Regions from separate parts of the Homo sapiens genome. Here all the other regions are linked to region 1. A link means that fine-mapping ties the variant in region 1 to the expression of a gene that starts in the linked region. Tissue or cell type: whole blood. Region 1 holds a variant in brackets; each other region holds the start of a gene. Each region is shown on its reference strand, or each on the opposite one.

The links. PIP is the estimated chance that this variant, and not a neighbour inherited with it, causes the effect.
Region 2: it holds the start of LTF, and the variant in region 1 is fine-mapped to the expression of LTF in whole blood (TOPMed, PIP 0.97).
Region 3: LCN2 starts here. The variant in region 1 is fine-mapped to the expression of LCN2 in whole blood (TOPMed, PIP 0.97).
Region 4: CAMP starts here. The variant in region 1 is the best candidate, but not a certain one, in a credible set for the expression of CAMP in whole blood (TOPMed, PIP 0.69).

Annotation. Positions count from the first base shown.
Region 1 is chr6:159,088,112-159,096,119 of GRCh38, reverse strand. It overlaps LOC112267968, which reads left to right. Exons shown (of 5, transcript XM_047419645.1): 3 at 221-391. Among named protein-coding and RNA genes, the nearest start is that of TAGAP, 47 kb to the right of the region's middle. RefSeq lists an enhancer at 1,288-1,417. The variant G/A (reference allele first, on the strand shown) is at 4,892.
Region 2 is chr3:46,460,680-46,468,687 of GRCh38, reverse strand. LTF (lactotransferrin) reads left to right here and starts at 3,783. Exons shown (of 17, transcript NM_002343.6): 1 at 3,783-3,863. The coding sequence starts at 3,821.
Region 3 is chr9:128,146,333-128,151,332 of GRCh38, reverse strand. LCN2 (lipocalin 2) reads right to left here and starts at 1,880. Exons shown (of 7, transcript NM_005564.5): 1 at 1,670-1,880; 2 at 959-1,095. The coding sequence starts at 1,807. RefSeq lists a silencer at 481-530 and an enhancer at 4,660-5,000.
Region 4 is chr3:48,219,329-48,227,336 of GRCh38, reverse strand. It overlaps CAMP (cathelicidin antimicrobial peptide), which reads right to left and starts at 3,842. Exons shown (of 4, transcript NM_004345.5): 1 at 3,625-3,842; 2 at 2,876-2,983; 3 at 2,663-2,734; 4 at 1,852-2,044. The coding sequence starts at 3,825. The coding sequence ends at 1,913. RefSeq lists a silencer at 3,864-4,158 and enhancers at 4,168-4,217, 4,228-4,357, 4,378-4,497.

The sequences.
Region 1 (8,008 bases):
GTCCAACAATTTGACTCAATTTGCTGTGCTTTATTGTAAATTCATTTTGTTTAAGTTCAAATTTTAAGAAAAAAAGTCTGCACTTTTTTCCTGCTGATTTCCACTCTGACTAAGCCACACTAGTGGTGACTTGGTGTTTGGAGACATCACAGGCATTGCACGCCAGCTCCCTGGGGAACCCTCTTCCCTCAGGACTGATCCCACTCTCCCCCGCCCTCAGGAAGAGCCTGGCATCCGCAGTGACCCTCGAGCAGCTGTCCCTGCAGCTGGGCCTGCCCCTCAAGCACGCTGAGCCTGTCCTTCACAGCCCCATGGTGCTGACCCAGGGCCCTGAGACCACCAGGAGGCACCTCTTCCTCTTCAGGGACTGGCTGGTCATTGCCAAGCAGAGGTGAGTTGGTGGCAGTCATCGCTTTGCTCTCTCCTAAAACTCAATCTCTTTCCAAGACCCTAGCAACACCCAAGGGCACTGCAAGGGGCCCCAGAGCTTGGGACCCAGCCTGGCCCACGTTACCAGCGCTTCCAGCCTGCACAGGCTTAGGTGGCTCCGTCCTTCTTCCCTGTTCTTTGACAAGCAAAGCACCCAGAGGCTGAATCCCTGGGACAACATCACACAGGTAGTGGGTAGAAAACTAGGACAAGAAAAGTAAAGAAAATCCATCATTTAAAAAAAAAAAGCCCTATGCAAACTTGACTTTTTGGTTTGACTAAAAGTGAATAATGTGTTTATAGCAATAAAGTTGAAATCAGAAATTGAGAAAGTCGATAACTGAGTTAACATGACCTGCACCATTTTTCTCTTTGGGAAGCTCTGCAATGAACACCTCCTCAATGTGTGCATTAGAGCAGCCTCTGGACTGGAGCCACAACTCCCAGGACGTGGTATATTTTTCACAAAGAAACCTACAGGCCCAAGGAACATGTGACAACCTTCTAAAAATCCCACACTAGTTTAAAAACAAAAACAAAAAAACGAGGGATAAACACAGACATTAGGCAAATAGAACATATCAGAGAAATAGTGGGGTCCCCTGGGGGAAGTGTTGATGTCCCTGGTCAGAGTCAATATAGGGAGGAAACCCAGAGCCATGGGCCATATTTGGCACTGCTGGTGCTGACTACGGAGGGGCCTGGGGCCCCGGGGTGATGCCTGTAACATTATTTCTGTTTTGTAGGAAGGAAGAGCATTTACATATTTTTATACTTCCATTTAATTTCCCTTGAAAAGCTCTATTTTAAGCTTTGGGGGAAATGTGCCACATTTTAAAGAGCTTCCCACACCTACCCACCGTGATTATTTTTTTAGGTGCTTGGAGATTTCAAAGAATTCAAAACCCATCTGGCATCCTCCCCCCGTATCCCAGCCCGGGATATGTTGTTTTCAGAGACCTGAGAAAGCCCCGGGGAGGCACAAACAGCAGCTGGGGAAATCCTGCCACGGCTCAGAACGCACACTTGTCACAGTCTCCGCGAGCGCCCCAGCTGAGCTCCTGAGCCAGGCTCTGGGCCGCGGGCTGGTACCCAGGGCACTCACAGGTGTGTGGCCTGAACCACCCCTCACTTTGCATTCAGGAACTCCCCGAGTCGCCCCTCTAAACAGACTCAGCATGCTCACCAGCAGTCAGGAGGCAGGGAGTCAGGGGTCACCAGCAGCCAGGAGGACAGGGTCAGTGCGGGGTGTTGGGGAAACGCACAGAGTTGACATGGAAGGTTAGCGTCAAACACACCACCAAGCCCTGGCCACGGCGGCCTGGCTAGAGGCACACACGGGCCACCGCGCCCGGAGATCTCGCTAGGCCTGGCCACGTGGCTTCCCACTGGGCACAGGGCACTAGCTGCGGCAGGGAACTGAACACTCACTGGGGTGCTTAGGTAGGATGACGATCCCAGGAACCCTTCCCCGCCCCTTCCCTAAGAATGAGGGTGGCGGCACTCTCGAAGGAGAGGGATTAGATGTGCACACACCCTATGAACCGCCTTCGCCCTCAAAGAGACCAGCTCCTTCTTGCCTCTGCGCCTCCGCCCGCGCTGCTCCGACCACCTGGGAGGCTGTGCCCCCTCCTCCTGAGCCAGCTCTTCTCCATGCTGGGGGACATGGCCCCGGGAAACTGGATCAAAGCGCAGACTCTGGAACCCAGGCGGGGGTTGAATCTCCTCTCCGCCATTTACCAACTGTGACTAAGCTCTATGTGTCTCTGTCTTCTCGTCTGTAGAGATAAAAATAGCATCTTCCTCACAGGATGGATTGGGGTGGGGATTGAAAGAATAACTACAAGATCAGAGTTTAGAACCGGCTGGCACGTGTGTGCAGTGTTTCCTATGAAGTAGAGTCGCTTTCTGATGTGCTTTCCAAGAAGGGTTGAGGCCCCACCCACTCACAAAAAGAGAAGACCAGAGAAGAGATCTCAGTCTCCTCCACCAGCCTGAAATGAATCTCAATCACTTATTAGCTAATGGCTCCCGGCACACAGAGGGTCTGCTCCACTCAAGCCGTTTTGCCATACTCTGGAGTCAGAGTCCAAGCTCTCAGAGAGTTTATAATGTAGCAGAAAGGTTTAAAATCCACCAGCCTCGACTGGGCGCGGTGGCTCACGCCTGTAATCCCAGCACTTTGGGAGGTAGAGGCGGGCAGATCACCTGAGGTCAGGAGTTCAAGACCAACCTGGCCAACATGGTGAAACCCCATCTCTACTAAAAATACAAAAATTAGCCAGGCGTGTGTGGCGGGCGCCTGTAATCCCAGCTACTCGGGAGGCTGAGGCCGGAGAATGGCTTGAACCCAGGAGGTGGAGGTTCAGCGAGCTGAGATCCAGCCATAGCACTCCAACCTGGGTGACAGAGCGAGACTCCGTCTCAAAAAAAAAATTAATTAATTAATTAATTTTTAAAAAATCTGCCAGCCTTCATGGACAAAGGGAAGGAATCATGATTGACTCTTTACTTTGTGTGGTGTTTTGGTTTTGTTGAATTCAAAGAGTGAGACTCATGTGTTTGGGAAATTTATTTAATTTTTCTATTTTTAGTATAATCTTCAGCTGTAAGTTTTCAAGATATACTTGGTACCATATTCCAATATGTGTAATGAGGAACTATCTTAAAGAAGTTTTACTGTTTTTTATAGGACTAGATACCTGATTTTTAAAGCCTTGTGAATTATGACCACATGGTTGTTTTCAGATCTGTGCAATTAGGTTCAGCGAATAAACGTCCAGGAGAGCCTTGGCAATCCATTGACAAGAACAGCACAGCCAGTGACTCCACAGGCGAAGGGAAGTGTTTTCAGTTGTGTTTTACTATAAACAGTATGACATACAAAGGCATATTTCATAACTTGCCCAAGTGGTTTTGAAATATTCTTTTCCATTGAGGCAATAGCCATTCACAATTGATAATAACCACCCCCAGGACCGGCTACACAATCTGTAAGACAGTGCCCTTTTTTCAAAGAGTAATAGGAATTTTAAGACAGCAGGAGCAGAACGATAAACCAACCACAGGGGTCTCCAAGCCTGGGGACCCAGGGGCTGCACAGGTCACCTGTTCATGGAGCTGGCCCTGGCTGCCCCCTGTGATGGATTTAATATATTTTAAATCATCAGACATATTTAAGGAACATCCAAGCTTAAGACCTTTACTGGATATATTTACCAGCATTTACCTATATTTAATAACATTCACTTTGCTCCACAAAAGATCTTATTTCTTTGCCAAAAATCATGTTTTGGAATAAAATAGACACAACTTCAACATTATTTTTTAAAATAAAAGTTGCAAAAGTACATCTCCCACATCTTCTGTGAATTTAAATAAATCGCTTTATTTGTTTTAGGCTGAAAGTGTAAATTCAGTGTGAATTTCATGCCATGCTCTCATTCACTTGTGGACATAACCTGCCTTTCTCATTTCACAAAGGCTGAACTATCCAACAACCTGATTTTTGAAGAATTTAGGGTAACACTGGCCTCACAGAATAAGTCTGGAAGTAGTCCCTCCTCCTCTGTTTTTCAGAATAGTTTGAGTGGGAATGGTATTAGTTCTTCTTTAAATGTTTGATAGAATTCAGCAGTGAAGCCATCAGGTCCTGGCCTTTTCTTTACTGGCCGACTTTTGATTATGGCCTCCATCTCATTACTTGTTATTGGTCTATTCAGGTTTTGGATTTCTTCCTGGTTCAATCTTGGTAGGTTGTGTGTATCTAGGAATTTGTCCATTTCTTCTAGATTTTCCAATTTATCAACGTATAGTTGCTCATAGTGGCCACTAATGATCCTTTCAATTTCTGCAGTATCAGTTGTAAAGTCTCCTTTTTCATTTCTGATTTTATTTATTTGGATCTTCTCTTTTTTTCTTAGTCTGGCTAAAGTTTGTCAGTTTTGTTTAACTTTTCAAAAAAACCATCTTTTGACTTCATTGATCTTTTGTATTTTTTTCATTTCAATTTCATTTATTTCTGCTGTCAGCTTTATTATTTCTCTTCTTCTACTAATTTTGGGTTCATTTGCTCTTGCTTTTCTAGTTCTTTAAGATGTATCGTTATATTACTTATCTGAGGTTTTTCCTCCTTTTTGATGTAGGCACTTAGTAGCTATAATCTTCCCTGTTAGTACTGCTTTTGCTGTATTCCATAGGTTGTGGTATACTGTCAGGCACTACTCTAGGTACTTGGGATAAAATAGAAAAGGAGTCCTGCTCTTGTGGAACTTATGTGCCAGCCAGGGGAGGTAGAAAATAGATGAGAAACATAGTAAATGATCTAGTCTGTTAGAAGGTGGTACGTGCCATGGGGGGAAAGGAGAGTTGGGCAAGGGGAATTGGCAATTCACAGCAAGAGAGTGGTTAGTTGCAATATTGGAGTGGCCTATGTGGGCCTCATTGCAAAAGGGAGTTTTGA[G/A]CAAAAATATGGAGTTGGCCAAGCAGATATCCAGAGGAAGAGCATTCATGGCAGAGGAAACAGCAAGAGCAGAAGGCCAGAGAGTGGAGCGTGCCAAGCACATCGGGGAATTGCAGGCGGGCCTGCAGGGATGGAGGGGAGGGAGCAAGAGCAGGAGGACAGAGGAGGAGGTCAGCAGGTGGCGGGCGGCAGATCAAACAGAGTTTCATGGGCCTTGGCAGGGCTTTGGCTTGTTTTCCTTGCTGAGTGAGATGGAAAGCCATTGAAAAAAATGACAGCAGAGTAATAATATGATCTCACTTCTGTGTTAAAAGATTCGGTCTGGCTGCTTTGCTGAAAATAGTGTAGGGCTCAGGGAGATGCCAGGGGTAGGAAGAAGGGGAAGTGTTAGAAGATGACTGCAGAAAATCCAGGCATGGGATGATGGTGGCTCAGACTGGAGAAACTGCAGCTGAGGCGGTAAGACGGGACTGGATTCTTAGTTCATTTTGAAGGTGAGACCAACCTGCCAAATTGGAGGTGGGGCTTTCTCCCCTTTTGGGAAAAATCAAAGAGGACTGAAATTCCCTGGCCTGGAATTCACATCTTGATGTATTTAGTAGCCAACAGCAGCTCTGTGAAGTTGGTATCACTTCTTCATCGCACCTTGCATGCTTGCCCAAGTCACAGAGTTATAATATAATAAAGGATGAAGTTGCCGTCCACTGAGATGAGAAAGGGTGGAGTGAAGCAGGTTCTGGACCTGTGAGATCAGCAGTTCAGTGTTGGACGTGTGGGCTCGAGATGCTGTTAGACGTCTGAAGGAAAATGGTGGGAGGCAGTTGGATATTGGAGTCGCCCATATTAGTTTTCTATTGCTGGACAAGTTTGCTCCAAGATTTGGCAGCTTACAACAAGGATCATTTATTAACCCACAGTTTCTGTGGGTTGGGTTTCTGAGAGCCATGTAGCTGAGTGGTTCTGGTTTAGAACTGCAGTCAAGGTGTTAGACAGGGCTGCAGTCCTGTCTAACAGGTAGTCTAGTAGGTAATGAGGATGACCTCATTACCTCATTTGAAGGCGAGTTTGAGGAAGGATCAGCTTCCAAGTTCACTCACACAGGTGGTGCAGGTCTTGGAAGATCCACTTCCACGCCCACTTGTGTGGCTGTTAATAAACCTCAGATCCTCATCCTGTGAACCTCACATGGCCCCTGGCTTACCCCAGAATGAGTGAGCCGAAAGAGAATGAGAGAGTACCCAACATAAAAACCACAGTAGTTTTATAACCTCATCTTGGAAATGACATCCCATCATTTCTGCCATCATCTACTCACTAGAACCAGTCAACAAGGGTTGGTGGACATATTTTTTAAAACCATCTCATTGACATACAGATTATATTTAAAGCCCTGAGTGTAATGAGAAATGAAAAGGGGACCAAGGACCATATCTTGGATACTTCAACATTAAAAGGTTGGGGAGAAGAGGAGAAATCATCAAAGGAGGCCAAGAATGAGAGGCTTGCGAGTGGGAGGACAATCATGAGACTGTGGCATTTTGGAACCAAGTAAAGAAAGTGCATCAAGGAGGAGAGAGTGAGCAACTTCAGCAAATGCTGCTGTGGGATAGGGTTAGTCGTTTATACTGGCTTGCCCAGGAAGGTCCCAGCTCACATCTGCTTTCGTCCTGGTGTTATTACTTATCAGGCTCCCTTTTGCTCTCAAAAGGAGGCAGATTTGACAAAGAATCTTATGGACATCCCATACCCAAGTCAAGTAATGTGAGCACTGAGATTTGGGGATTGGATCAGGCATCATAGAGGTCACTGGTGATAATGAGCGATCAGTGTCTAATTGTGTCTTACTGTGGGACATACATCAGCATACCTTTGCATTCAAAATACTTTTCCTACTAAAAGCTATTACAGAGCTAAGTAAACTATTAGCTAATATTAGTGTAAGTATAACATAAAATATCAAATTAAAGTAAGATTTTAAAAAACATAAGCTCAATTCATTCACTAAATTTTAACTCTTCTCAATCACTATTTAATGTAATTACAGATGATGTGAAAGTTTGAGTACATCTAAGTTCATTTTATGGAGCTGAGTGTGGTGGCTCACACCTGCAATCCCAGCACTTTGGGAGGCCAAGGCGGGCAGATCACTTGAGGTCAGGAGTTCGAGACCAGCCTGGCCAACATGGTGAAACCCCATCTCTACTAAAAAATATGAAAATTAGCCAGGCATGGTGGCGCACGCCTGTAATCCCAGCTATTTAGGAGGCTGAGGATTGAACCCGGGAGGCGGAGGTTGCAGTGAGCTGAGATCATGCCACTGCACTCCAGCCAGGACAACAGAGCAATATTTTGTCTCAAAAATAAATAAATAAACAAATTCATTTTATGAGTTACTTATTTTGAAAAAAATTGTCACAATTGCAATGCTATAAAATTGTTTTCAAAACAAAATAATTTGGCAAACAGGCAAAAAGAACATCTTTAATAATGATCCAAGTTGATAAAATAGAAACAGACATAACAAGATTCATATTTATTCCTAATTATTCACGAAACGTTTTACATGTGATAAAATGTATAAAAGCTCTCATCATGGCTTGTTCCCTGGTGTCATAAACATCCAAATGTCCATGGCTGTCCTGAATCTTGTCTTCCCCGCTGGACACTTATGAAGGATGACCTCATTACCACCCATCTCCACTTAGCCTATGCCAAATTTTAATACCAAGGTCGATCATTCCTATGGCCCAGGCACCAGGTTTATCGCTTCATACGTCTTGATGTATTTAGTAGCCAACAGCAGCTCTGTGAAGTTGGTATCTCTTCTTCATCGCACCTTGCATGCCTGCCCAAGTCCCAGAGTTATAATACTCCCTCACGGTATGTTGCCATTTGTCAAGTGACAACTTACTTAGATGAATTATTAAACTTTGTTTAAAAAATTCTGGCTTATTTTTGACATCTTAAGGAAGTAGAAAGCTGATGTTAACTTTCATTTTACATATTATTTAACAATTTTTTTCTTGAGATTGTTGGCTTCATGGAAAAAGTCACCTCCATCCACAGGAACAGTAGATTACATTTAAAATATTTTTTTCTTATTTGTACAAATGTATG
Region 2 (8,008 bases), not on the chromosome of region 1:
TCCCACCTGAAGCCAGTTCTACTCAGATCTCACACTTCCTTCCCAACACTCTTCTTGGGGTTTGAAGCTAGAGGCTCATAGAGGGCAGGGTGTGAGGTTTACTGGCTTGCAGGGAGGACTTAGGTTGGCCAGAGACTGTTGCCTGCTAATGGGGCTTGGGCCTGCAATTCTGTAAAGGCTCCCTGGAGGAGTTTTGAGGGTGGGGGCAGAGCAGGGTTAGGGGGAAGGGAGTCAGCCTCACACATCTGCCTGTTGAACACTAGCTCTTGCCACTGCATGGCAGTTTCCACAGCAGCTACCTTCTTTGTGCTCCTTAAACTCATGTTACTGTCTCAGCATTTGGAAACCTGCATTCTGCTTCCCTGCAGGCTCTTTGAGATCTGACCCAACTCCTGGCACGTTGGAGATGTCCCATAGACCAGTGTTGAATGAATGGGTAAGTTAATGAGTCCATGTACACAGGCTTTGGCATGGCCTGGCTTAGGCAGCCCTGACCCTCACTATCCTTCAGACCCAACACATTACAAACAGGATCCTTTGTCCCTTTCTTAGCCTGTTCCTCTTCCTCATTTATTCATTCCTTCAACCGATATTGATCATCAAGTGCCTATAACATGCACAGAGCTAACTGGCCAAAGGATTTGAGGGTGCCTCTGCGGCTCTTTGGTGGGTTTGGTGGAAAGCGGTAGGAAATATGAGAAAAGGTTCAGGGTTGGAGGGACTGGGTGAGTTGCATTTTCGATGCATTAAATTTAGGCGCCTTCAGGACCTGCAAGAGTACCTTTCCAGAGGCAGATGAACACATGATGTGGAGCTCAGGATAGAGGAGGAGGATTTTGTTAATCCTTCTTCCAACAAGAGTTCCAAGCCATGGCTGGGTGCAATGGTTTATGCCTGTAATTCCAGCACTTTGGGAGGCCAAGGTGGGAGGATCGCTTGGGCCCAGGAGGTCAAGGCTGCAGTGAGCTGTGATTGCACCACCACTGCATACCAGCCTAGGTGACAGAGGGAGACCCTGTCGGTAAAAAAAAAAAAAAAAAAAAGAAAAGAAAAGAAAAGAAAAAAAGAATTCCTGGCCAGAAAGCCAGAGGGAACTTTTGTTGTCCCTAGTGCTCAGGTAATTGGTCACTGGGTTCATGCTCCCAAGCCTTTACTTGTTTGGTTGTTTACTTTACAGAATGCTCTACCTGTAGAAATCCCACCCTTCCTTCAGGTACCCAGGCTAAATCTTCCTGGAGTTCTTCTGGAGCCCTCATGATGGGTGCTGGTCATTCCTCCTCTGGGCCCTCACACTCACTTGCTTTATGCTGCTTGGCCTCTTCTTAGGGAGCCTCTGTGATAGAAGTGCATTCCTGTGACTGTCCCTCCCCCATAGTGCTGTGAGCTCCTGAGGGCAAGGACAGACCCCTCTTCTCTGTCTCTCATGGCATCTACCAGTTCTGGCATGAATGAATGAATGAATGAATGAATGAATGCTGTTAATAGATCAGTGAAACTTCATTGTTTTTTGGGGCAGACTCATCCCCTACATCAGCCTCCTCTGCAAATGGCCTTGAGGGGCTGCTCTGCCTGTGTCCAGATGCTCACATCCCTGCCCTGGGGCTGGGCTGTTCCAACAGGCACAGCAGGAAAACAGTCTGCCCTGTTGCCTACCCATGCTGCCTTCAGGGCACTCCTTAAGCTGAGCCTCTTGGTAGTGGCCCCAGGTTCTCTGTGTTCTTGCCAACACTGTAACATACTTAAGAGGGCCCAGGGCCCTCTGACCTCCCAGTCATCCTTTTTTAAAATTTGGACTCAGAAAAAGAGACACGGGTTATGATGTTTCTTAATTCTTTTATAATGATGAAAAGGCAAAGTCTTGTTGCCAATTTAGGTACAAAGATGCTTCAGCACTCCTGGGAATTAGTCAATTTTGTATTTCTTCAGTATTTTTGAAAGAACTTATTGCAATTATTGATGATGGCAACTTTAAATGGTGCAATATCATGTTTCCAAACAATGAGAGACCTTGGATCTGTCACCCCAAAACCCAGCTGGTGATTCTAGCACCAAATCTCAGACCCCAGTCTCATGGCAGGCAAGCATGATCCCTGATTAGCCTCCACCCTGTGCCTTGGCAGGATCATGCCCAGAAATGGAGGGGCTCCCCAGCCTCCTTAATGGCCTCTCCACCTTGGGCTGAGCCTGCTTCTCCATGGCTAGGTGCCCACTGCATGCTCACTCTTGGCAGAGCTGGCTCCCTGGGGCATTGCCTATCTGCTCCAGGAAATGCTTTTTAGTACCAAGTAGTCTAAGCAGAGTCAAGACCAGCTTTTCAGAATAAGCAGATTTCAGAGTCACATATTGGTCAGACTCACCTGCCAAGAAAGGTGTTCAGGTGACCTATTATTTCCCTCACTGTTAGTACCTTTTTTCTTCACTTAGTTACCCTTTTTTTTTTTGGTGGGGGTTACAGAGTCTTACTCTATTGCCCAGGCTGCAGTGCAGTGACATGATCATGGCTCACTGCCACCTTCATCTCCCAGGCTCAAATGGTCCTCCCACTTTAGCCTCCCAAGTAGCTGGGACCATAGGCATACACCACCATGCTGGGCTAATTTTTGTATTTTTTGTAGAGATGGGGGTTTCCCTATGTTGCCCAGGCTAGTCTTGAACTCCTGGGCTCAAGCGATCCTCCCATCTTGGCCTCCCAAAGTGCTGGGATTACAGGCATGAGCCACTGTGCCCTGCCTAGTTACTCTTGGGCTAAGTTCACATCCATACACACAGGATATTCTTTCTGAGGCCCCCAATGTGTCCCACAGGCACCATGCTGTATGTGACACTCCCCTAGAGATGGATGTTTAGTTTGCTTCCAACTGATTAATGGCATGCAGTGGTGCCTGGAAACATTTGTACCTGGGGTGCTGTGTGTCATGGGAATGTATTTACGAGATGTATTCTTAGAAGCAGTATTCTAGCTTTTGAATTTTAAAATCTGACATTTATGGCGATTGTTAAAATGAGGTTACCATTTCCTACTGAATACTATCAACACCAAAAAAGAAGAAGGAGGAGATGGAGAAAAAAAAGACAAAAAAAAAAAAAAGTGGTAGGGCATCTTAGCCATAGGGCATCTTTCTCATTGGCAAATAAGAACATGGAACCAGCCTTGGGTGGTGGCCATTCCCCTCTGAGGTCCCTGTCTGTTTTCTGGGAGCTGTATTGTGGGTCTCAGCAGGGCAGGGAGATACCCCATGGGCAGCTTGCCTGAGACTCTGGGCAGCCTCTCTTTTCTCTGTCAGCTGTCCCTAGGCTGCTGCTGGGGGTGGTCGGGTCATCTTTTCAACTCTCAGCTCACTGCTGAGCCAAGGTGAAAGCAAATCCACCTGCCCTAACTGGCTCCTAGGCACCTTCAAGGTCATCTGCTGAAGAAGATAGCAGTCTCACAGGTCAAGGCGATCTTCAAGTAAAGACCCTCTGCTCTGTGTCCTGCCCTCTAGAAGGCACTGAGACCAGAGCTGGGACAGGGCTCAGGGGGCTGCGACTCCTAGGGGCTTGCAGACTAGTGGGAGAGAAAGAACATCGCAGCAGCCAGGCAGAACCAGGACAGGTGAGGTGCAGGCTGGCTTTCCTCTCGCAGCGCGGTGTGGAGTCCTGTCCTGCCTCAGGGCTTTTCGGAGCCTGGATCCTCAAGGAACAAGTAGACCTGGCCGCGGGGAGTGGGGAGGGAAGGGGTGTCTATTGGGCAACAGGGCGGGGCAAAGCCCTGAATAAAGGGGCGCAGGGCAGGCGCAAGTGGCAGAGCCTTCGTTTGCCAAGTCGCCTCCAGACCGCAGACATGAAACTTGTCTTCCTCGTCCTGCTGTTCCTCGGGGCCCTCGGTGAGTGCAGGTGCCTGGGGGCGCGAGCCGCCTGATGGGCGTCTCCTGCGCCCTGTCTGCTAGGCGCTTTGGTCCCTGTGTCCGGTTGGCTGGGCGCGGGGTCTCTGCGCCCCGCGGTCCCAGCGCCTACAGCCGGGAGGCGGCCCGGACGCGGGGCCAGTCTCTTTCCCACATGGGGAGGAACAGGAGCTGGGCTCCTCAAGCCGGATCGGGGCACGCCTAGCTCTGCTCAGAGCTTCTCAAAAGGCCTCCCAGGCCCCTGTCCCTTTGTGTCCCGCCTAAGGATTTGGTCCCCATTGTATTGTGACATGCGTTTTACCTGGGAGGAAAGTGAGGCTCAGAGAGGGTGAGCGACTAGCTCAAGGACCCTAGTCCAGATCCTAGCTCCTGCGAGGACTGTGAGACCCCAGCAAGACCGAGCCTTTATGAGACTTAGTTTCTTCACTTAAAGAAACGGCCTAACCATGGGTCCACAGGGTTGTGAGGAGGAGATGGGGCATTCGCACACCTTCCGTGGCAGAGGGTTGTGGAGGGGTGCGGTGCTCCTGATGGAACCCTGTGTCAGAGGGTTTGAGAGGGAAATGTCAGCCAAACAGAAGGAAGGAGTAGAAGGAAGGAAACAATTGTCAGTTCCATAACCAAAGTAATTTCTCGGGTGCTCAGAGGGCACTCCCCAGCGCTGCACATTAGTGACCTAAATGCGTGAGTGCGGAGCTCCCTGCAGCACCGGGAGGGGAAGGTCCCAGGCCGCAGCAGAAAGGGCTGTGATGGGCATCAGGACCTAGGCAGTGGGAGGGGCACAGTGAAAGCCCAGGTGTCACACCTCCCCAGCCCAGTGCAGCCTCCACTTGTCTTACGGCATCTACCTAAGGCTGGGAGCTTCCTGGATGGAAGAGGTGGCGGTGGATAGAGAGCAGCAGTGGGAGCCCAAACCCATCCTTGTCCCTGCCCTTCTGGTCTCCTGCTCCAAATTCCTTCCCATGGGTGTTGGTCATCCTTCTCTTCTCTAAGACAGATTGGGACTGGCCAGGACCCGACTGTTCTCTTCCCCTCAAGCTCCCTGGCGAGTGGCCTGTTGCACAGGGTTAGGGCCACCTGGGAGGGGCAGGAGAGGAAGGAAGCCTTGCCTTCCTGGAAGTGGTCATGGGCTGTGGTCCAGGATTCTGGCTCAGAGTTGCACCACTGGGTTTTATATTCACTTGGATCTTTAGTTGTTTTGGCGCCTACTGAGGTCTGAAGTTTGAATCCTGCAGTCAATTGGGATGGTGGCTTGTACCCCAAAGTGCCATTGCAACCCTTGTCCTTCCTGAGGAAAGGGTGGCAGTTGCCCTGTGGAATTCCTGCCCTGCTCCCCGTGGGTGTCCAGGCTGACAGAAGTTGGGTGAGTGGGGCCAGCTGGATCTAAGCCGTGTGAGCATTGGGTGGAGGAGTCTGTCTGCTTAGCCCTGGAGCCATGGGCTGGGAGGCACTCATGAGGTTTCCCATCAGTCTGAGCAGTCTGCTTGGGCCCTATCATGAGCTGTGTGGGTAGGTGGGGAGAGTAACTCCTGTCCTGGCCCCTGCCTTGGAGGCCAGCGCACTGCATGTCTGCCCAGAATGTGTGTTTTGGCCAGTGTCCAGCCAGGTCCAGTGGGCAGCATCTGAGTGCCTGACACTGAATACAAGTGTGGGGTTGAAGATTTTGGAGGGGCCAGACCTAGACCTGCTTCAGGGGGTCACATAGCTCCAGAGCTGGGAGGTAAGAGCTTGTGGGTCACACAGCTCCAGAGCTGGGAGGTAAGAGCGTGGAGACTTCACCTGGTGTTTGGGGGGCTGGGGACTGGGAATCCTGGAAGGGAGCTCAGCGGTCCTTTAGTCACTCTGGTTCAGCTCCTCTTAGGGGAAGAAATGAACTCTGCCCACAGGTTCCCGTCATTGCTCAGCCCCCACCTCCGGCTTGAGGCATGGTCTTCCATTTTACTCTCTCCCTTCACCCCCAGAACCCACCCATTACCAAGCTGATTTCTGATACCAGCTCCCTGCCCCCTTCTCTGTTCTCAGTGCTGTCCCCTCTCTCCACTCAGACTAGCCCTTCCCTGGTGCCTTCGTTGGCCACAGCTTCTCTGCCTGTTCCCAGGTCTCAGTTCACTCTGCCCCTGCCCTAGGGAGAGTCTCCCGTGAGTCACAGCTTCACTGCATCCTGAATAAGACCTCCCTGGATCAGCATTGGAGACTTTCCAGGATCTGACCCAGACCCTTTTCTAGCCCCATCTCCAACCTGTCTCTAACTTTGCCAACCTAAATAGGCAGGCTAGCCCAGTGGTAAGAGTAGGGGAGTTTAGTGCCTGACTGCTTAGGTTGGAGTCCTAGATCCAACACTTACTTATTAGCTATGGGAACTTCCACAAGCCACATAACTAGTTAAAGCCATAGCTCCCTCCCCTGGAGAATGGAGAGGTTGGCAGAATTCACAATACAGAGGAGCTGTGGCAACTAATGGAGACACGTATGTCTCCATTAGCTGGTATTTGTTTGGTATTTGTTCTCTTTTAACACATCCACCATTCTTAGCTTCCTCTTTTTGGATTTTTGCCTCTCCAGTGAGAAGTGAAATCTGGTCCTGTCCGCTTACACATTCCTTGCGTGACACACAGTGCTGTTTGTACAGCAGGCATCCAGTTAATGCTCACTGGGTCACAAATGGCTGCATCTGATTGGGTTAATTCTCAGTGTGGGATAGTTCTATAAAGGCTTCCAAGGCAAGATTATATTCCCTGGGATTTCCCCGGGATGAGGGTGGATGAAGGGGGAGTATGGCAGCTAGGTGTCCCCAAACCTCTGCAGACTCAGCCAGGGAGCTACAGGCCTCTTGCCCACCCAAGGGCCATGGGTGGCTCTCGCCATAAGGGGATGGCTCAGAAACAGGAGACAGCAGAGGCTGAACATTCTACCCCATAGCACATCCAAAGGGCAGAGGGCTTTTACAACTGTGTGTTTATTTTGTTTTTTTGTTTGTTTGTTTTTTGTTTTAGTTTTTGGTAACAGCTTTACTGAGGTACATTTTCCATATCATAAAAAATCACCTATTTGCGTACAATTCAATGAGTTTCAGTAACCTTACCGAGTGTGCAACTATCACCATAAATCTGTTTTAGAACACTTTTATCCCCCCCAGTAAAGGTCCCTCATGCCTGTTTATAGTTAATCCTCATTTCTACCCCAGCATCAGACAACCACTAATCTATTTTCTTGTCTCCATAAATTTGCCTTTTCTGGACATTTCATTCAAATGGAATCATACAGCATGTGGTCTCTTGTGTCTGGCTTCCTTCACTGAGCATAACTGAGGCTCGTTCATGTTGTGGGGCATGCCAGTAGTTCTTTTCACTGCTGAGTAATATTCCATTGAATGGATGTACATTCACCAGTTATTGGACATTTAGGTTGTTTCCAGTTTTCTACTATTCTAAATAACACTGCTATGAATATTCATGCACAAGCATTTATGTATGATAGGTTCTTATAATATTTCTTCTGGCTATATGCCTAGAAGTGCAATTGTTGGGTCCTATTGGAACTCTGTGCTTCACATTTTGAGAAGCTGCCAACCTGTTTTACAAAGTGGCTGGTCATTTTACATTCTCAGCAATGTATGAGGGTTTCCACTTCTCCACATCCTCATCGATATGTGTCATTGTCTGTTTTAGCTATTATAACCTGTTCAGTGGCTGTGAAATGATATTTCGTTGCATTTTCAATTTGCATTTTTGACTAATGATATTGAGCACTTTTCATGTGCTTATTGTCCATTCATATATCTTCTTTGGTAAAATGTCTGTTCTTATCATTTACCCGTCATGTACTAAATCCTTTTTGATGTTATACTATCTAGCATTATGTTCTTAATTTCATTTTTAGATTGTTCTGTGCTGTATGCAAAAATATGATCAATTTTTGTATATTGATCTTGTATCCTGTGGCCTGGCTGTACTTGTTTATTAATTCTAATAGTACTTTGTAGATTCTTCAGTATTTTCTACATAGAAGATCATGTTATCTGAAAGTAAAGTCAGTTTTACTTCTTTCTTTCCAATATGGGTGTCTCATTTCTTTTCTTGCCTTATTGCTGTGACTAGAATCTCTAGTACTGTTGAATAGAAGAGTTG
Region 3 (5,000 bases), not on the chromosome of region 1:
CCCCCCGCCACCCAACACACAGAAACCCTGCATTTCTCCCCTGCACTCAGCTTGCTGCTTCCCTTCCTATACCCTCTCCCGGGGATCCACCTCGGTACTTCCAGTCTGCTCCATGCCAGCCGTTCCCCTAGCTCTCGGGTCAAACCTGACCCCATCCTTGAGTCCTCCCACTTCCCATCCCCTGGCACCCCAGGGCTGAGCTCCCCAACCTGTCTGTATTCTGCTCCTTGCTCCACAAATGCCCCAATCCCAATCCACTCAGCTGCCAGAGTCAGAAACCCACTGGGGGCGGCTGATCCCTGGCTCCCTGCCTCTTCACCCTGCGCCTGTTCTCTCACACCTGTGACGGCCCCGCTTCACTTTCGCTGGTCTCCCGACCCCCTAGGCTGCACCCCACCAAGTCTCCCCACCCTGCGGCCCAAGAGCCCTGCTCTAAGCCACTCCGCAGCAGATCCGCTGGGGCGGGGCCTGAGGACCGTGCTAGGTGCTAGCGTGGCCACCTGCCCCTCCAGGCTGCTCAGCAGCTCTGCTCAGGGTGACCCTGCGATGGCTTGCTCCTTCCTGAAGGGGGGGCTCTCTCTGACTCCAGCCCCTGCCGGGAACACCCCACATTTCCTTTTGAAGCAGGTTGGCTCTTTTAAGGCCACCTCCCTGGAAGCCTTCCATGAAGGCACTGGGTGGGGTTCCAGGCTGGATCCAGTGTCCCCTCCTCCCGCTCCCAGGCACCCCTCCTCTCTCCGTCTTGTTTTCTAACGACTGTGCATGTCCATCCCCACCACTGTCTGTGTGTCTGCATGGAAATGTGCTATAAACGTTGCTCTAAGGAACAGAGGAAGGATGAACACAGATGAATTCCGGGCAGAACAGCGAGGTGAACGACAGGATCCCTCAGCTTTGGCCATCCCTTGCCTGTGACGTCAGTCTGACTCTCACACCCCCAGGAGATGTCGGCCCTCACCTAAACAGGACGGAGGTGACATTGTAGCTCTTGTCTTCTTTCAGCTCATAGATGGTGGCATACATCTTTTGCGGGTCTTTGTCTTCTCTGAGAATTGCATTCCCTGCCAGGCCTACCACATACCACTTCCCCTGGAACTGCAAGGGACTGATAAGAGGCACAACCCAGGAATGGCCCTAGGAGCCACCCCTCCAGCTCTGTCCCTGTGGCACCTCTGGGCCGCCCAGCTTGGAACCATGAGCCCCTCTAGCTGGGCAGCAGGGCCCAGGCTGGGCCTGCACTGGTGAAGGGGCAGGAGCAGGAGGCCATCAGTCCAGAAGGGAGTCCTGGGGGAAGAGGCGGTTCTGAGTCTGGCAGGGAGGAGGGTGACCTCCTCACTGGAGGAGGCATGTGGCTGGTGGGCCTTCCTGAGCCTCAGTTTCCTCATCTGTGCAGGGGGACTAAAAGTGCTCCCACCTTCTTTGGACAATGGGGGTTATGGGAGAGGGGATGTGGACCTGGGGGAGTCTGTTCAGGCTGAGAGGGGGTGGGGATGGGGGGAAGGGGCATGGTTTCCACCAGGGGACCCTGGTGGCACAGAGTGAGCTGAAACCTGGACCCTGGACTCCTAGAGTCCTGCCCAACGCTCTTCCTGAGTCTCTTCACCTCTCCTCCCCTCTGCTCCCACTCTTCCCCAGGCCCTGCCTGCAGGTGCCCCTCTTGGCCCCTTACTTGGTTGTCCTGGAAGTTCTGCTGCAGAGGGACCTTGCTCAGAGGTGGGGCTGGGATCAGGTCTGAGGTGGAGTCCTGGGCCTGGGCATGCAGAGCCCCCAACAGGGCTAGGCCCAGCCACAGGAGACCTAGGGGCATGATTTCAGGGCCGAGGAAGCAGGCGCTGTGGTGGCTGCTGGGCCTGGCAGGGGTGGAAGAGGAGGTGGCGAGTGAGAGGCTCACCTGGGTGGCCCTATTTATGGGATCTAGGGTGGGTTGATTCATTCTTTGCCAAGGCCAGGAATGTGAGGCAATTGCCAGCAACTCCTGCGGAAACACTTGGCAAGATTTCTGCACCTGGTCAGGATTGGGCAAGACAGAGGGACGGGGAGAGTGAGGGACATTCCCGGAGTGCTGCACCTCTGGCAGGGACAACGACTCCCTCTGTGCCTTCCTTGTGCTGTTTCTTTCTTCTGATTGCCCTGTATGTGGGCCGGTGGCCTGTGAGCCGGAAGAGCTGTCATCTCTGACCCCCCTGCTCAGCTGGATCCCAGGGTGGGGTATGTGCCCTGTGGTCCCCTCCCCACACCCACAGAAAGGAAAGAATGAATGCCTCCTTCCAACAGATCATGTGCTGTTTCCTGGTTCTTTTAAGGGTCAGGGAAGGGTGGGGTGGCTGACAGTGGACAAGGAAAAACAAGGCGTCTGCTCTGAACTCATGGAGCCCAGAATCATGGCCCTCCCAGGAGCCCCAGTCCAGGACCTGCATGTGCTCCAGGGGCCTTGAGACAGCCCCTTGCCCCTCTCCTTGCCCCATTTGCAGGAGGGGACCCCAGTGGACCCCTGAGGGACCCTTCCTCTCCTGTGAGTGCAGTGGGAAGAGACCCCACACAGGGCACATGGGTTGAGTGCTGAGGCTACAGTCCCTGTCCTGGGTGAGTTGGGCTGATGTGTGGGGGCGTGAAGGCGCCACACTGCTGCTCTGGACACCTGTTGCTTTGGGTCACTGACAGTGCAAGGATCTGGCCTTATCCTTGAGGTCACTGAGACCATCCCCCTGACTCTAGTCACAGCCTTTTTCCATTGAACCCAGCAGCCCAGGCCAGGGGTTCTGGAACTGTCACCGAGATGGCTGGTCCCAGCCTTGTCCAGCAGGGAAGCAGTTATCTCAACGGGGGCCTGGCTGGCATCCTCGGGAGGCAGCGATGGATCGTAGGCCCTGTGCAGTGTCCGCAGAGATGGCTCACCCATGAGGGCTGAGGCCGTCCTGGATGCCTGACCTGAGGCTGGACTGAGGGTTCGCTGGTTTTAGAGCTTTCAATGGGACTAACGGGGACCTCACTGGCTCTGCCTACGTGCTGCTTGGGATCCCCAATCTGGGCTTGGGGGCAGCAGGGCCTCAGGGAAGGGGCTCTGGGAGTCCTGAGCTGGGGTTAGTCTAGAGAGGCACCCACTGGATCCCTGCCCCCTCAGGCCCTGTCCTGCCTGCCCGATTGGATGATGAAAGGGCAGGAAGCAAAGATGAGTAAAACTGCAGGGGAACGATGTTGCACCAAAGCCTTCCCTTTCTAGAGGTAGCCAGTGGCTACTCGCTCCCTCCGAACCCCCTCTTCCCCTCATGACCCTGTTCCCAGGAACTCCACCTCTGCTACTGTCTTTGACCTTAAAAAGTATCCTCTGCCAGGCCGGGTGCGGTGGCTCACATCTGTAATCCCAGCATTTGGGAGGCTGAGGCGGGTGGATCACGAGGTCAGGAGTTCGAGACCAGTCTGGCCAACACGGTGAAACCCCATCTCTACTAAAAATACAAAAATTAGCAGGGCATGGTGGCAGGCGCCTGTAATCCCAGCTACTCGGGAGGCTGAGGCAGAAGAACAGCTTGAACCTGGGAGGCGGAGGTTGCAGTGAGCCGAGATCACGCCTTTGCACTTTAGCCTGGAACAGAGCGATATTCTGTCTTAAAAAAAAAAAAAAAAAGGTATCCTCGGCTGGGCGCAGTGGCTCTCGCCTGTAACTCCAGCACTTTGGGAGACTGAGGCGGGTGGATAACCTGAGGTCAGGTGTTCAAGACCAGCCTGACCAACATGGTGAAACCCTGTCTCTAGTAAAAATACAAAGATTAGTTGGGCATGGTGGCGCATGCCTGTAATCCCAACTACTCGGGAAGCTGAGGCAGAAGAATTGCTTGAACCTGGGAGGCGGAGGTTGCAGTGAGCCAAGGTTGCGCCATTGCACTCCAGCCTGGGCGACAGAGGGAGACTCCATCTCGGGGAAAAAAAAAATGTATCCTCAGGGACTAGCCTGGCCAATATGGCAAAACCCCGTCTCTACTAAAAATACAAAAATTAGCCAGGTGGGGTGATGCATGCCTATGATCCCAACTACTCAGGAGGCTGAGGCAGGAGAATGGCTTGAACCCGGGAGGCGGAGGCTGCAGTGAGCCAAGATCGCACCACTGCACTCCAGCCTGGGAGACAGAGTGAGACCCTGTCTGAAAAAAGAAAAAAAAAACCACGTATCCTCGGGGAGGCTGAGGTGGGAGGATCACTTGGGCCCAGGAAGCCGAGGCTGCAGTGAGCTATGATTGTGCCACTGCACTCCAGCCTGGATGATAGAGTGACCTAAATCTAAAAAGTACCCTCTAGTCTACGGTGACTGCTTCACGTAGCTGAGACCAGCGGGTGGAGCCCCAGAGAATTTGAAGTTGGGGGTGAGGCAGTGTCATGGATCTCTGAGGACCCAGGACTCCAGGGTATGAATGTGGTGGGTGAGCAGGGCACTGGGTCCACAGTGGGAAGACACCAGAGCCAGGTGCAGAAGGGGAGATAGTCCCGCTTGGGGGTCCCCCAGGCTGGCTTGAAGCCTGGCTCCTCCGCATGCATGCAGATCTCTGCCTAGCTCCCACACAAATCAGGCGCTCCTCTGTAGAGAGGGCAGCTCTGCGCTTCTGTGAGGTCATGCATGGACAGCACCGGGCCCCAGGGTGTCCCTACACAAGGCTGAGTTTCTGATCAAACCCATGCAGGGCTCATTCCTCTCTCTGCACCAGCTCCAGACCTGTCTCCTACCCACTGGCCTTGGCTCTCTTCAGAGTCTAGCAGGGCTGCAGGGAGGGGGTCAGCTCTACATAGACCCACCACACAAGCTTCAGGACTCAGCACTAGGAAGGTTGGGTAAGGACTGTGGTGTAGACCTCCCATTCAGACTTGACCGACTCCAAGGGCTCCAGGGTCAACAGGACACTGGGGCCCCATTCCTCACCCACCCCCTTTCCACTGGGCCCCATTCATTGGGCCCTAGCCAATGAGGGTACACAAGTGTTCACACTGCTCAGCGCTTGGGGGAGTCCCTG
Region 4 (8,008 bases), not on the chromosome of region 1:
CCTTCTCTTCCTCTCAGAGAGGGATGCCTGTGTCTTAGTTTAGGTTGGCCTGGAAGCAGACCTGAGTTAAGGATTTAAGTGAGAGTAGTGTATTTGGGAAGCAACTACAGAAAGCACCTGCAGGAGTGTAGAGAAGTGAGACAGGGAACGAACAAGTCAGAAGAGGATGTGGTCATGAACAGGTCTTTGTTGAGGGTAGCCCACCTGGGGACCTCTGGGAGATGTGAAACACACCTCTGAGTGTGCCCCCCACGGGTGAGAAGAACAAATATTTTTCCACCAGCTCCCACCTATCATTGGTTGAGGCTGCTCCCTGGCGCATAGACTTCCCAGTACTTCCAGTTGAGCAACCCCATAGCAAAAAGCTGCAGGTGCTTCTAGTGGCTACAGAATGGTGAGTGGGGAGAACACGATCCATGTCTGAAACACCAGCACAACAGAGTCGCGACCTGTGTGTCACACTCTGCATGTCTCTTCTAGCCACAGCACCTCACTCCACTGAGCAGGATTCTCCTTTTTTTGTTTGTTTGCTTGTTTTAGAGACGAGGTCTCACTCCTTTGCCCAGGCTGGAGTGAACTAGCATGATCATAGCTCACTGCAGCCTTGAACTCCTGGGCTCAAGTGACCCTCCCACCTGAGCCTCCCAAGTACCTGGGATTACAGGTGTGCACCACCACACCCAACATATTCTTGGTCTTTGGTTTTTATTTTATTTTATTTTATTTTTTTGAGATGGAGTTTCGCTCTTGTTGCCCAGCTGGAGTGCAGTGGCACGATCTTGGCTCACCACAACCTCCGCCTCCTGTTCAGGCGATTCTCCTGCCTCAGCCTTTCCAAGTAGCTGGGATTACAGGCATGTGCCACCATGCCTGGCTAATTTTTGCCACTTTAGTAGAGACAGGGTTTCTCCATGTTGGTCAGGCTGGTCTCAAACTCCCAACCTCAGGTGATCAACCAGCCTCAGCCTCCTAAAGTGCTGGGATTACAGGCATGAGCCACCACGCCTGGCAGGTTTTTGGTTTTTATGAGCCCAGTCACCTTTGTTTCACCCTGTCACCCAGGCTGGAGTGCAGTGGCGCAATCTCAGCTCACTGCAACCTCTGCCTTCCAGGCTCAAGCAATCCTCCCACCTCAGCCTCCCGAGTAGCTGGGACTACAGGCACGCACCACCATGCCCAGCTCATTTTTGTATTTTTAGTAGAGACAGGGTTTGTTATGTTGCCCAGGCTGGTCTCAAACTCTTGACCTCAAGCAATCCACCCGCCTCGCTTCCCAAAGTCCTGGCATTACAGGTGTGAGCCACCACGTCTGGCCATATTCTTGTTTTTAACAATCCCTAAACACAAGCTCACAAGTTAAATCTGCTACCCACCTGAAGAAACTGTGATGTGTCCCAATGCCAGAGGAAATGCCAGGAGTTATGGGCTTTCCTGAGTTAAGTCTTTTAGGAAGCATTGGAATTTTATGGGAATTGTACCTGCAGGGAGACCGCACCCAGTTGGCCAGCCACCCATGGGACTGGACCATGCTTCTCTGAGTGTTAACAACACGCTTGGCCCCTCCCTTGAATGTCACCTCCCCATGAGCAGGAACAGCTCCACAGCATTCCCCCACCACCACACACAGAGTAGAGCTCCTTAATTCCCCACTGGGGGTTCCACTGAGAATGGGAATGCCATCTTGGATCTCTTGGCCCTACTGCCTTACCCTGTGTCCTCCTGGATGGAACACTGCCCTCGCCACCTCTGTGTCACACTCACACACACTCACACTCACACGTGGACTCCCTGAGCTAAGGGCTCAGTTGTGGTGAGAGAGAGGAGGCAAAACAAGTGAGACTGAAGCCTGAGGAAATTGCTCTCATAGTTTATTTCTCAGAGCCCAGAAGCCTGAGCCAGGGTAGGGCACACACTAGGACTCTGTCCTGGGTACAAGATTCCGCAAAAAATCCTTGATTCTCTGGACAATTCTTTTAAACTCTTTGCCAATCTTCTCTTTAGATTTCCGGAAGAAATCACCCAGCAGGGCAAATCTCTTGTTATCCTGGGGTTGTGTACAGGAAGAAACAGGTTCCTTGTCGGGGATGTACCCAGGGTCAATCCAAGACCCCTCCCCACCTAGACGCCCCTCTTCGTGGGCCCCCGCAGGAGCTTTGGGGCCCCAGTTCAACCTCTGGCTGTGACCTTTGAAGCATGTGATTGAATCCCTACACCCAATAAAAAGATGAGAAAACAGAGTCCCGGAGATAGTGAGGGGCTCTGCAGGGTCACACAGCCCAGCCCAGCAACACTGAGATGGGAACACAGGGCTGAGAGCTGAGTACTCTTAGACAGTGGCTCTCAAACTTTACAGAAGCCGGAATCTCCTGGAAAGCTTATCAAAATACGAATTTCTGGGCCCTACCCAGAGTCTGTCTGAGTAGGTCTGAGTAGGGCCTGAGAATTTGCATATCTAACGAGTCCCCAGGAAGGGCTACACTTGGAGATCTACCGCTCTAAGGGATTCCAGAGCCGGCCCTGGAGATGGAACTCAGGTTTGGGGAAGAGCCCTGGGTAGGAGGGGCTTTCTCTGTCCTGGGTTGGGGGAGTAGTTAATTGACCCATTGGATGGTCCACACTCTATGCCCCCATCAGCCCCTGCATCCCAGAACAGCCCACTCACCTTATCACAACTGATGTCAAAGGAGCCCCTGGCCTGGTTGAGGGTCACTGTCCCCATACACCGCTTCACCAGCTGGAAAGGAGAAGCTCAAGGTCAAACTTGAAACCATTTGCCATGACCTCCCAGCCACATCCCAGTGGGAAATATTCCCCAGGTGCCCCCTGTTCAGCTCCTTGGGAGGCACCCACCAACACCCCCAGCCCCCAGCCTCACCCCGTCCTTCTTGAAGTCACAATCCTCTGGTGACTGCTGTGTCGTCCTGGGGCACACTGTCTCCTTCACTGTGAAGCTCACAGGCTTTGGCGTGTCTGGGTCCCCATCCTAGTCAGAGGAGGAAATGGGGAGGCCCATTCTTGTATTTTCTGATTTGTGTCCATGACCTCCCCACCAAGAGGGCAGGCTTTCCACAGTACCTGATGTGCGACGGGCACTGGGTGCTGGGCTTGGCACTGGGGCATTGAGGGGAGGAGGACTGAGCCATTCCTACCCTCCTAGGTGAACAGTGAGTAGGAGCAGACCTCAGATGAGCTCTAACAAGGAGCCCCTCCCACTCTGGGGTGGGGGCAAGGGAAGTCAGGGGGCTTCCTGGGGGACAAGACATGCCCACTGGAACCTAAAGTCTGGATAGAGTTCTTCCCTATGTGGGGTAACGTGGTACAGAAGAGACTTAAAGCAGAGGAGGTCACTGCCCAGAGCCAATGACCCCATTCTAGTGCCTGGAGCTCGCAGAAGTCCCAAAACCTGCGTGGGGTCGGGGTGAGGGTATCTCTGCCACAGCAGGAATTATAAGGCAGGAAGCTCTCGAGCTGGGAGGAGACACGAGCTCTAGAAGGTTCCCTGGAAAACACGGGACCACATTTAAAGGGGGAGATGCCCTCCTGGCAGGCAGTGCAGCAGGAGCAGAAGGAACAACACGTGGCCAAGCCCAGCCAGAGCAGAGCAGAATGTCCCCCAAAGCTCACCATCGTGGGCCTGGGGTCCAGGTCCAGGAGGCGGTAGAGGTTAGCATCCGAGGACCGCTGGTTGATGCCATCTATAGCACGAAGCACAGCTTCCTTGTAGCTGAGGACCTGGGCAATGATGGCCAGAGGCATCACCAGGCCCAGCAGCAGGAGCACCAGTGACCACCGCCCCAGGGAGTGGCCATCCCTTTGGGTCTTCATGGTCCCCATGTCTGCCTCCCTCTAGCCCACAGGAGCCTCCTTTATGCCCAGCCTGAGCCTGATGCAAAAGCCCAACCAGGAGCCTTCCTGATCCACCCATCCCTGGCTGCCTGCCAGGGTGTGGGCTGGGGTTTGCTTTAGCCCCTGGCTATTGCTTCACAGGACTTGCTGGGCAGTGAGTGAGGCCTTCCTTGTGTGCAAGATGAGGAAGTGGTTTCTTCATCTCTGACAACCTCCCAGACCTGACCGGAGATTGTCATAGCCAGGGGTGCTCAAGAGCGTTAAATCCCTCCAGAGAGGAAGAGAGCCAGGTGCCTATTCTACATCCTTCTACTCCTCAGGAGTCAGTATGATGGACTGCTAAATCTCCAGCTCTAGGCATTGCCTGGCACCCTGTAGGCATCGATTAAGAATTGATGAATGAGGCAGGGCACGGTGGCTCACGCCTATAATCCCAGCACTTTGGGAGGCCAAGGTGGGCGGATCACCTGAGATAAGGAGTTCGAGACAAGCTTGGCCAACATGGTGAAACCCCATCTCTACTAAAAATATGAAAATTAGCCACGCATGATGGCTCACACCTGTAGTCCCAGCTACAAGCTGAGGCATGAGAATCACTTGAACCCATTGAACCCGGGAAGCAGAAGTTGCAGTTAGCTGAGATCATGCCACTGCACTCCAGCCTGGGTAACAGAGTGAGACTCAGTATGAAAAAAAAAAAAAAGAACTGGTAAATGAAGACAGTAGCCACCCCCAACCTAGAGACTCACTCTTGCAAGGGACAAGTTGCCCTTTCAGTTCAAGGCCATACCACATGCTCTCTGGACCCAGCCGTCAGCCAGACGAAGGCTCTGCTCCATCTATCCCCTTCTGCATCCTTCTTCACTGTTTTTTTCAGTCTCAAAATGTTCCCAAGCCCCTCCAGACATGGCCTTTCACCATGGCTTCTCCCAAGCCAAGTCTTAGGAAAGGTTGTCTACGCTTCTTGACCCCATCTTTTCACTCTTCTTCATGCTGAAGGCCACTGAAGGCTGGCCAACCCACCCTTGGTCCATGGCCACCCTCAAGCCTGGTCTTTGTCTGCACAGGCACTGGTGAGCCTTCCTTCTTGCTGCCCCGGTCTCCCCTGATGCCACTCTCCTGCTGTCCCTCCTGCCTCCCTGGTGGCTCCTTCTTGGTCTCCCCTAAGGGCTGTCTTCTTAATATTGAGAGCGTGTGGGGTCACCTCCTGGGCTGCTTCTCTTCCCTGGCCTCGGGTTTCCCTGGGGACGCCCTCTCCCAGGACACCAGTTATAATAGGCAGACACCACCCAGTCTGTATCTCTGAGTTCGAGACTCCCATGAACGTCCCGGTTGTCCCCACTGGGCCTCCTTGACTGCTCTTCTGCTGAGTGCCCACTGCATGAGCCCTGAAGCACCTTTGGCTCCTTCCTCCCGAAAGCACTCCCCTCTGGCCTCTCCTTCCACCCCTGCCTGGCTCCTGCCGCCATCTTCTCTCCCATGCAATGCTGCCCCAGCCTCCAGACTCCACCTTCTCTAGGTTTCAGGCTCTCCCCAGACCACAGTCCACCCTCCACACCGTTGTCCAGGGGTTCCTTTAAACCACCAATTTGGCCATTTCAACCCTCTACCTTCAGGAGCCCACACACCCCCTAGGCTGGCATCAGGGCCTGTGGCCTTTTGGTTCCCACTGCCCTCACCCCAGCCCTGCACACTGCAAGTGCCAGACTGTCACGTATGCCCCCATCACATAGGCTCATCTGAGCCTCCTGCTCTTTCTCCCAGCTCTGCCCCGATCCTTCTGTTTGGCCTGCCCTTTCACCTCATGAAGCTTTCCCTGACCTCCAACCAGGCACAGCAATCTCCTCTTTGCCCCTACATCTTCCAGGAAGTCTCTCCTGATTCGACCTCAAATTACTCCCTGTTTGGTGCTCTAGCTGAGACACCAAGCTGGGATGGGTGGCTGGTGTTGGGAGAGGGAGAGATCACAGCCAGGAGAGATAAAGGGCCAAAGTGATAGAGGGGTCCAGCGTCCATGAGGCAAATTCCGGTCCCAGCTCCTCTGTGGACTGGCCATGTGGCCCTGAGGCCTGGGGTACCTCTTGACCTCAGTTGGCCTGTGGGACACTTGGGGGCTTGGACAGCAGGGCTCCTGGAAGGTGGAAGCCTGGACGAAGGCCACCGGTTGCACACCTGGCCTTGAGAGAAGGAAGAAGTGGGCTTCTGTGCAACCTGGTTTCACAGTTCAAGTGTTGCCCCAGTGGCCTGTTGGTCAAGCAGGGCTTGCACATCAGGTCTTTTATGGCTGTTGGGAAAAGGGCCATCCAGGGATATCAGACCTCTCAGGGCTCTCCTGCTTCCTCCACCCTTCTGACTGGCTTCAGGATCCCCAAGAAGCCAAACCGGGGAGAAGCAGATGGCAATGTTAGTCCTTAGGCTAGGGCGTGAGAGCTGCATGCTCCTGTGTTCCTCTAGGTCAGATCTGGCATATTCAGAGCCCCTTTCCAACTGCCTCAAGAGGACGTTCCACTTCGGCCAGTGCTGGACACGCCCTCACATGAAATCAGCCAGAGCCCAAGCAGCTTGCATAGGCCCTCTGATACAACTGCAGAAGTCTGGACTCAGGGGCACTTGCTTTCCCTCTCAGGGCCATCGCACAAGGTCCAGGCTTCCCAGGTTCCAGGAGTGAGTCCTGCCCTCGGCACATGCAGGTCGGTGTCCACTACCTGAGGTAGGGCGGCTGACTTCAGACCTTTAGAACCCATGGCTGCCCCTTCCTCCTAGAGAGGGAGAAAGGAGGCTCTCACCAGCTCGCCTTTTTCATAATGGCTCACCCCATTAATAGAGTGATCAGAAGATTCTAGGCAAGGCGGAATGAGAAAAGAAAAGTGAGGCTTAGCCGGGCGCGGTGGCTCACGCCCGTAATCCCAGCACTTTGGAAGGCCGAGGTGGCCTGATCATGAGGTCAGGAGATTGAGACCATCCTGGCTAACACAGTGAAACCCCGTCTCTAGCTGGGTGTGGTGGCATGCGCCTGTAGTCCCAGCTACTTGGGAGGCTGAGGCAGGAGAATGGTGTGAACCCAGGAGGCGGAGCTTGCAGTGAGCTGAGATGGCGCCACTGCACTCCAGCCTGGGCAAGAGTGTAAGACTCCGTCTCAAAAAAAAAAAAAAAGTTAGGCTTTTCCACATCAAGACTTGAGGGCTAGATAAATGTCCCTTCACAAAGGCCTGGGCAGCCCCTGTCCCTCTGTCTCTCTATCTCTCTCTCTTTCCTCTCTCTCTCTGAATCTCCCACCCTGACTTCTCTAAGTGGCCCCTTCCTCTCCTGCAGACCCAGGAGGCTCCAACTCCTACACAATGTGATCAGGGAACCTGGTGCACTGGGACTGCTGAAGGCTCTGAGAGACTTTCCACAGATGAGCAGATGCTGGAGCTACCCTCTCCCACTCCACAATCCCTCCCCCATTGGCGAACAAAGCCCAGCTTAGCCCCCACTCTGCGTTCCCTCTCTGGCTCCGTGTCTGCAGCCCTGGTTGTCCTGGTGGAAGCACCCACCTCCTCAGGCCTGCTTGCCCCTGAGACAGCCTTCATCAGAATGGCCAACTTGTCTGAAAAGTAGAGAACCAAGCAGGCAGTTTGTTCATCCCCTTGGGGAGCACTGGGGAGGGAGTCCTGGGATGGGAATCCCAGGAACCATATTCGTCACCAGCCTCTGTCTCTGTGGGTGAGTCACTGTCCCTGTCCCTCCCTGTGCCCAGAATCTATAGTCAGCACAGAAAGCCCAGGGCTTTGCAGGCAAAGAGCCCAGGTTCCCTCATGAGGCTGACTGGGTTCCTGGCTCAGCCCTGCTGCGACCAGCTGTGTATCTGCATACCGATGTGTCTGCTCTCCTGCCTCCTCATCTGTAGAACAGGGATGATCATCACAATGTCTAGTTTGTAGAATTGTTGTGAGGGTCAAATACAACATGGTCTGTGGCCAGTACATGTGAATTGTTTTTGTTGTTATTAATGTGACCTGTTAGGTTAATGCTTCAGAAGTAAACATAGTGTGCTCCCAGAGATAGTAACTTTGTTGGCCAAGCATGGTGCTTCAGGACAGGAGTTCGAGACCAGCCTGGGCAACAGAGCGAGGCCCTGTCTCTACAAAAAAATTTTAAAATTAGCTGGGCATGGTGGTGT